Linked DNA regions of Homo sapiens. The protein of the gene in region 1 interacts with the protein of each later gene in a pairwise test. Each region holds a gene or a part of one and is shown in the gene's direction. Other genes may lie near its edges.

Region 1 (3,600 bases):
CTTGCAAGAGATGGGACAGTAGCAATGCTTTCATATGGGGCAGGAAGTTGCACTGGTCACAGGCAGCATAGCACTAGTGGACAGTGCCTTCCCGGGCTGCAGAGTCAGACAGTCTCAAATTAAAAACACAAGTGAGTGGTGGAACAGGGCTATATGTATAAGGCCTACTCCAGCACAGTCATAATTTAGCGATATAAAGCATGCACTGCACCTAGCACAGTGCATGATACATAAAAGTCAAAAATGTGTTGCGATTCCTACCTCATGCTTCCACTTTCTCCTGAGGAATGTAAGCAATGATTATTTTTCAGTGGTACCACCTACCAGGCATGTGGCACCCTGCCTGCATCTCATGTAATCCTCACAATCGTGCTCAGGTTACTATTAATATCTCCATCTCACAGTTAAAACGGAGTTCAGAGAAGAAACTTGCTCAACTTAATGCCACAGTTAAGTGACAAGGACCAGTGTTCCTATCCAAGGCTTTCTGATTTCATAGCCCCCACTCTCAACCATTAATACCAACTGTCTACGTGGGAAGCCTTGGGGACCAGAAGCGCCGTCTGAAACTTCAGCCACGGCGTCTAAGGTGTCTAACGTCCTTTTCACGACCGTCGCCTGCTCAAATCTGCCCTTGAAACTCTGAGAGACAGGGGTCCCGTTTCTGGCCCTGACTTGCCCCTGGCTTCCTGTGCAGCTAGTAAGTCCTTTGCTCTCACTAGCCTTTAGTTTTTGCTTCTGATAATGGGCAAGTGGGTATGTAGGGTGGCACACAGCAATACTTACAACCCCTGCAAAATGAAATATATTAACCTCGCTTAACGTTTTAGAATTCACATCAAGCCAAGGGGACAGACGGCGGACTCGAGACAGAAGACGCCGACGGTTTACCCCTTACCCCCTTCCTGGTAAAAGTATACTGAGTCCCATCCCACCTCTACTCCACTGTCACCCCTCAGGCGGGTCCAAGGTCAGGGATGGCACAGGCCCTCACCCCCTCGTTGATGTGGTCGTAGATAGCGTCCGCGCCTTGATCGAAGGCGCGCTCGAAGAACATGACGCCCACGATGATGGTGAGGGCGAAGGTGGAGGTCCTGCGGAACAGCAGGGAGTACAATTTCGAAGTCAACGTCGCGGCCGCCATGTTTCTTCACAGTCCAACTCGCGCCACCGCGCCTGCGCTGGGGCCGACCTCGTTCCCCAAAGGCCCTAGACGTGCAACACTTTATGGGATTTGTAGTTCCTCTGAATCTCAGCCTTCGTGTTTTGAACCACAGAGGTATTCCTATCCTGGGAATGAGGAAAAAAACTCAAAAGGTTCATATCAGGACAGCCCAGATAATCTGATAAGATTTATTACCCAATTTTTCTTCTCCAGAATTCCTGGCTGTTAGAATATGTCAAACTACAACTCCCAGAAGCCCTCGCGCGCCATCACCTTCTCCCCGCCCTCCGCCCAGTCCCGGCTTAGATTCCCAAAGCTCTCTGGGAAGGGCGAACTGATGGCCAAGGCGAGACTACGAATCCCAGCAAGCAGTACGCGACGCGAGGACGCAGGAGGAGGAGCCCGGAGCTGCAGCCACCGGGGAGCCAGGTACCTTCCGCGAGACGTCGAGGGGCGAGTCCTAGTCTCTTTTCTCCGCACTGGAAGACTTGAACACTTCCTTCTCTGTGCGTACGCCCTGCGGCGGGACGCACCATTTCTTGGGATAGGGTGTGGATAGAGGGGCGAGGGCAGCTGGGTTCCCGAGACCCTGGCTCAACTCTTCGCCTTGTCCCCTGCACCAGCCCCAAGTCTAGGCCAGGAGCTGGAGCCTGCGGCAAAAGTCTTGTCCTGGAGGTTAAACCCTTCACCCTGGATTAAGGGCAGGGACGGATCTGCCCTGCTTCCTGTTCCTCTCACCCCTGGGCTTCGCACCGGGCAACCCTGGTTTGGAAGGCTGGAGACTTGGAACCTGCTTGGGATTGAAAAGAGCAAGGGCTTTGGAGTACCTGGGGCATTCAACAGATGTTTTCCCAGCGCCTGTTCTGGTCCCTGCTCTGGGGACCCAGCAGTGAACAAAGTCCTTGCTCTCACAGAGCGCTCAATCTACGGAGTGGGCGGGTGGGGAGATGCAGTACAGCAAACAGATAGTGCTTTGGTTGACTGGAGAGGCAGTGGTGGTGACATTGCACCCTGGGTAGCTGCTCTGGGGGGTGACACTTGACTAGAGACCTGAATGAATAGTAGAGTTGAACAGGAAAACGTTGGTGCAAAGGCCTTGAGGCAGCTACAGTCCTGGGATGTTTGAGGGAAAGAAGTAGAGTGGACTGTGAAGAGGTTGACTCCGGTCAGCTCATGTCTGGCCTTGGAACCCACCTTACGGAGTCTTGTTTTCTTTGGTTTTTGTTTTTAGAGACAGGGTCTCACTGTGTTGCCCAGGCTGGTCTCCAACTCCTGGGCTCAAGCAATCTTCCTGCCTCGCCCCCCAAGGTGCGTGAGCCACCGCGTCTGGCCAAGGAGTCTTGTCTTTTTCTAGTTGCACTAGGAGGCCATTGAAGGGTTTTCAGGAGAAATGCGACAAGATTTAATGTGCACTTTAATGTCATCATCCTGGCTGGTCTATGGAGAGTGGACCGCAAGGGGGAAGTTATTGTAGTAGATCATTTGAGGGAAGATGGGTGGTTATTTATTTGAGATGGAGTCTCGGTCTGTCGTCCAGACTGGAGTGTAGTGGTGCTATCTCGGCTTACTGCAACCTCCGCCTCCCGGGTTCAAGTGATTCTCCTGCTTCAGCCTCCCGAGTGGCTGGGATTACAGGCGCCTGCCACCATGCCTGGCTAATTTTTTTTTTTAGTAGAGACAGGGTTTCACCATGTTGGCCAGGCTAGTCTCAAACTCCTGACTTCAGGTGATCCTCCCATCTTGGCCTCCCAAAGTGCTGGGATTACAGGCGTGAGCCACCATGCCCGGCCTGATGGGTGGTAATTTAGGTTAGGGTGTGGAGCAGGGCAGTGATCAGATTTGGGATGTAATTTGGGAGGGAGGGCAGACAGAGCAAGCTAGCAGATGTGTGTAGGGTGCACAGGAAAGAGGAATTGAGGAGGATATCTAAGTTTTTTTTGTTTTTTGTTTTTTGTTTTTTTTTGAGACAGAGTCTCACTCTGTGCGGCTGGAGTGCAGTGGCACAATCTTGGCTCACTGCAACCTCTGCCACCCATGTTCAAGCAATTCTCATGCCTCAGCCTACTGAATAGCTGGGATTACAAGCGGATGCCAACACGCCCAGCTCATTTTTGTATTTTTAGTAGAGACAAGGTTTCACCATGTTGGCCAGGCTGGTCTTGAACTCCTGGCCTCAAGTGATCCGCCTGCCACGGTCTCCCAAAGTGCCGGGATTACAGGTGTGAGCCACCGCGTCCAGCTGACATCTAAGTTTTGACCTCAACAATTTAAAATCAACAGAATGATCTTAAGTTCTGTTTTGGCCACATCAGTTTGAGCTAGCCAACAGACATCAAGTGGAGGTGTCTAGAGGCAAATGAGGACATGGATCTGTAGTTTAGAGGAGAGGTATGAGCCTGAGAAGAGTCATCCGGATAGGGGTGGCATTCAAAACC
Region 2 (3,815 bases), on another chromosome or scaffold:
CTGAGTTCAGAAATCTGGCCAGGCTCCTTCTCCTGGAAAAAGCATGGGAAAGGCAGGATCTTGAGGGAAGGGAAGATTTTGGATTGATTAGGGGGAGCGGGGGAGGAAGAGGAAGAGGAAGAGTATTCCTGGGCCAAAGTTAGAGACAAACCTGATAGGAAGACCTATTCTAGGGGAGGGGATGGTGATCAAGCCCACAGCCAGATTGGACTGAGGCCTGTGGAGGATGGTAGGGGTATCTGAGGGTTCCCAAGGTTGGTTCTATCTGGAGATGCCTGAGGCTGGAGGCATCTTAAAAACTCTGGGTAAAGGTCTGGCTCCTACAGGCAGCAGCTCCCTCTTCATAGGGCCTGAGCCAAGTGTTGGCAACAGGGCTGATGGGAAACCAGGGTGCTCTTGGCCTTGCCACCAGCAGAAAATGGTCCCCAGCCCACAGTAGGTGCTCAATAATTATTTACTAAAGGAATGAGTATATCATTGGAAAGACATTGCCCATCTCTAGGCCTCAATTTATCTGTGAGATGGCAGGTCAGGATGGAGATTATAATTTACTGGGAAGACTAAGCCACAGCACAGTGATCCTGTGGTGCTAGTCCTACCTAATTCAGGAGGTCGACACACAGAGGTTCTGGGGGCTCAGGCACTTGTCCACGGTCTGGGATCCTAACCAGTCCGTGACTGCAAATCCAGCTTTTCTTTTTTCTTTTCTTTTTTTGAGACGGAGTTTCGCTCTTGTTGCCCTGGCTGGAGTGCAATGGCAAGATCTCGGGTCACCGCAACCTCCGCCCCGTCCAGGAGAAGGGGCACTGAGGAGGGACCCAGTTCTCCCGCGGCTCTGCCGGATTCAGGCTGCAGCGCTTCCAGCGCTCCCCGAGGTGGGTGCGGGTTTCTACTGTGGCAGCAGGGCGGGCCCCCATCGGCTGGGTTTTCAAATAGAAGAGAAAACCGACCCAGAGGCCGCGCCCTACTGACCTGCGCGGGGGTGCGGGGGGAGTCACGACGACCTCCCCCACCTCCCCCAGCCTCTAGGCTATTACATCCGTCCCCAGCCTTCGGGCTCAGAATAGGAGGCAGGGAAAGGTGTGAGGGGCACTGAGGTCGGGGGAGGAGCGAGAAGACCCGAAAGCCAGGCGTGTTGAGGGCAAGGTGGGCAACAGAACCTTCTTGGTCATTCGAGGCAGCCCTCGCTAATGACCATTGGGGTCCCAACACTCGAATCCCCACCTAAGTCCTATTCAGATAGTGACTGGGAGTGGGAAGGGAGTTTGAGATCCTAAGTCCCACCCTCTGGGCTGGGAGCCTGAGGCCAGAGAGGGGAAGTGATTTCCTCAAGGTCACTCAGCAAAACAGCGCCCAGCCCGGGCCAAAGCTCAGGTGTCTCCCAACCCCCTCCCCCCGGCCATCACCCCCAGAACTCGGTCCCCCGGAGCTGAGGTCTGCGCGACTGGATTTAGGGGCAGAATGAGTGCGTCGGGAACCCCAAAACCCTAGATCAAGATACAAGGGGAGTCGACGGCCCGGAAACCTCGCTGCGGGTGCCCTAAGCGCGAGGCCGCCCGGGCAGGGCCGCCCAGGGACCGGGGCGCTGGGTGCGGGGCACGGGGCTCCACCTCCCGCGGGCTGGGGCGCGCAGCGCGCGGCCCCTTTAAGAAAGTTCGCCGGGCGAGTTCATCAAAGTTTAAAAACTCGCCGTGGAGAAGGGCGCGGGGGAAGAGGAGAGAGGGAGAGCGCTGACCCAGGCGAGAGAGAGGGGAAAGGCCCGGCCGGAGGCCGGCGCCCCGCGGCCGGGGCCGGGGCGAGCCCACGGTGGGCGGTGGGGATTGGCTGCGCGTTCCCCCGGAGACCGCGCGGCGGGCGGGGGAGGGGGCTGGCCGGGCCCCAGCTGAGGCCGGTTCCGGCCCCGCCCCCCGCCGCCGGCGCCCGCCCCCTCCCCCGGCGCCCGCCCCCCGCCGCCGCTGCCGCCGCCGCCGCCGCCGCGGCGCACTCGCCGGTCGCAGTGAAAAGGCGGAGGCGGCGGCCCCTCCGGCTCCCACTGCCTCCCCCGCCGCACCCCCTCCCCACCTTCCGCACCCGCCAAACTTGATGTGACCCTGGCCCGACGCGGAGGCTGCCCCTCTCACTGCCCCGTGGGTCCCCCGCCACCCGCTCCGCACCCGCGAGCGCACCGCTCCCCGCGCCCCTTCCCACTTCCCGCGGGGCCGGCGCCGCGCTCGCCCTCGCGTTCCTTCCCGCCGCCCCCTCCCCCGCACCATGAGCAACCTGAAGCCGGACGGCGAGCACGGCGGCAGCACCGGCACCGGCTCCGGCGCGGGCTCCGGCGGCGCCCTGGAGGAGGAGGTGGGTCTGTGGCCCCGGGACTTGCCGGGTGAAGCGCACGCCAGGCGGGCGCGGGAGAGGGCGAGCGGGGCCTGCCGCGCCTCGCGGGGCCGGGGTGGCCATCGCTCCCGGCGCCTTCCCGCCGCTGCCCTCTCGCCCGGGTAGGAGCGGCCCGTGTCCGCGGGCGGGAGCGTGCGGCCTGGACTGCCCCGCCGGACAGGCATTGTCTCCCCGCCCTCTCGGGCTCGAGGCGGGCCGCGCGCGCCGGCCGCCGTCCGGGCGTCCCGCGGTGGGCGAGATGCGCCGCGTCCGTTCCATGCCTGCCGCCCGCGCGCCCCTTGCTCCCCACCCCGTAGCCGCTCGCCGCCCTCCTCCGAGGCGCACCTCCTGCGTGGCCAGGACCCCGCCTCGGCGGCACGGAGCGGAGCGGGATTAGCACGGCCCGAGGGCGGCACCCTCACTCCACTGCCTTTTCCGCCCTGACCCCCTCCCCGTGACCTTGGAGGCCTGGGCCGGCCGGCTCCTCGGTTCCTGCGAGCTGTTGTCATGGGGGTGGGCGGGCTTTCTTCACAGCCCCAGAACCTGGGCTTTGGCAGAGGTGAGCCCACAATTTAATTAGTTTGGAAGATGACTAAAGACACTCAGTTCGTCCTTCTCCTCTCTCTGGGTTTGTCCTGGCAACCAAGCCAGGACCCCAAAGCTGGCCTGGGTGGGATCCTGCCAGGAGGGGCGAAATCATCTCGTCCACCGGCCATGTGCGAAAGGGAGGGAGTGTAAGGCGGCTCCGTGGAACCACCAGCAGCTGGGTGGTTAATGGATGGTAGGGAGGATGTGTGTGCGGGGTGGGGTGCTGGATAAAAGCCTCAAAGATATCAGTGAATAGGGACGAGGAGCTAGGCTGGCGGAGACAAGAACTGGAGTAGAAGGGGACAGGCTTCGCAGGGCCTCTGGCCTCTGCTGCGTCATTCTAGGGGTGAGAGAGCCTTCCTGCCCCTGCCCTGGCATGTTCTCGCCCAGGAAACCAAGGGCTGGTTATCCACCTTGGGCGCCCTTCCCCTTGGCCTGGGGGAGAAACCGCAGAGCCCCTGGTGTGGACTGGTGTTGCCTCCTCCCCTTGTGCTGGGGGTTGGTGCAGAATGGCGCCGGTGGCCCTCGGCTGGGCTGGGCTCAGCGCCGCCAGCTCCCACTCGGCTATTCAGAGACCTTCAGCCAGCCCCAGTCGATGACAATCTAGGTTTGGATCTCCACTTTTTGGCGGAAGGGGAAGGGAAGAATATACAACTGTGACATCTGTCCACTAATGACTTAAGTGTGGTGGATTTGTTTGGGCTCCAGAGGCCTTGCCCTCCTTGTACCTTGATGCCAAAAGGCCCTTGGCTTTGGGGATCTTGCCCCCATCCTGACTCTACCTGGCTGTTAGAATCTCCCTTGACAGTTGGGGAGGGTGACAGGGTTGCTAGCGTACTTGGAGTCTCTGCTTGGCCCCCTGCTGTGGGCTG

The links. The genes of interacting proteins can lie anywhere in the genome.
Region 2: the proteins of ZMAT5 (region 1) and RBPMS2 interact in binary tests that used the Homo sapiens proteins (3 or more experiments, as listed by UniProt).

What each region holds. Positions count from the first base shown.
Region 1 is NC_000022.11:29,764,943-29,768,542, reverse strand, and holds the start of ZMAT5 (zinc finger matrin-type protein 5), read left to right. Parts: upstream 1-1,535; 5' UTR 1,536-1,671; intron 1,672-3,600. Other genes in the region: UQCR10 (cytochrome b-c1 complex subunit 9), read right to left, coding at 995-1,144.
Region 2 is NC_000015.10:64,773,755-64,777,569, reverse strand, and holds the start of RBPMS2 (RNA-binding protein with multiple splicing 2), read left to right. Parts: upstream 1-1,980; 5' UTR 1,981-2,250; coding exon 2,251-2,337; intron 2,338-2,826; exon of another isoform or gene 2,827-2,914; intron 2,915-3,118; exon of another isoform or gene 3,119-3,133; coding exon of another isoform or gene 3,134-3,136; intron 3,137-3,815.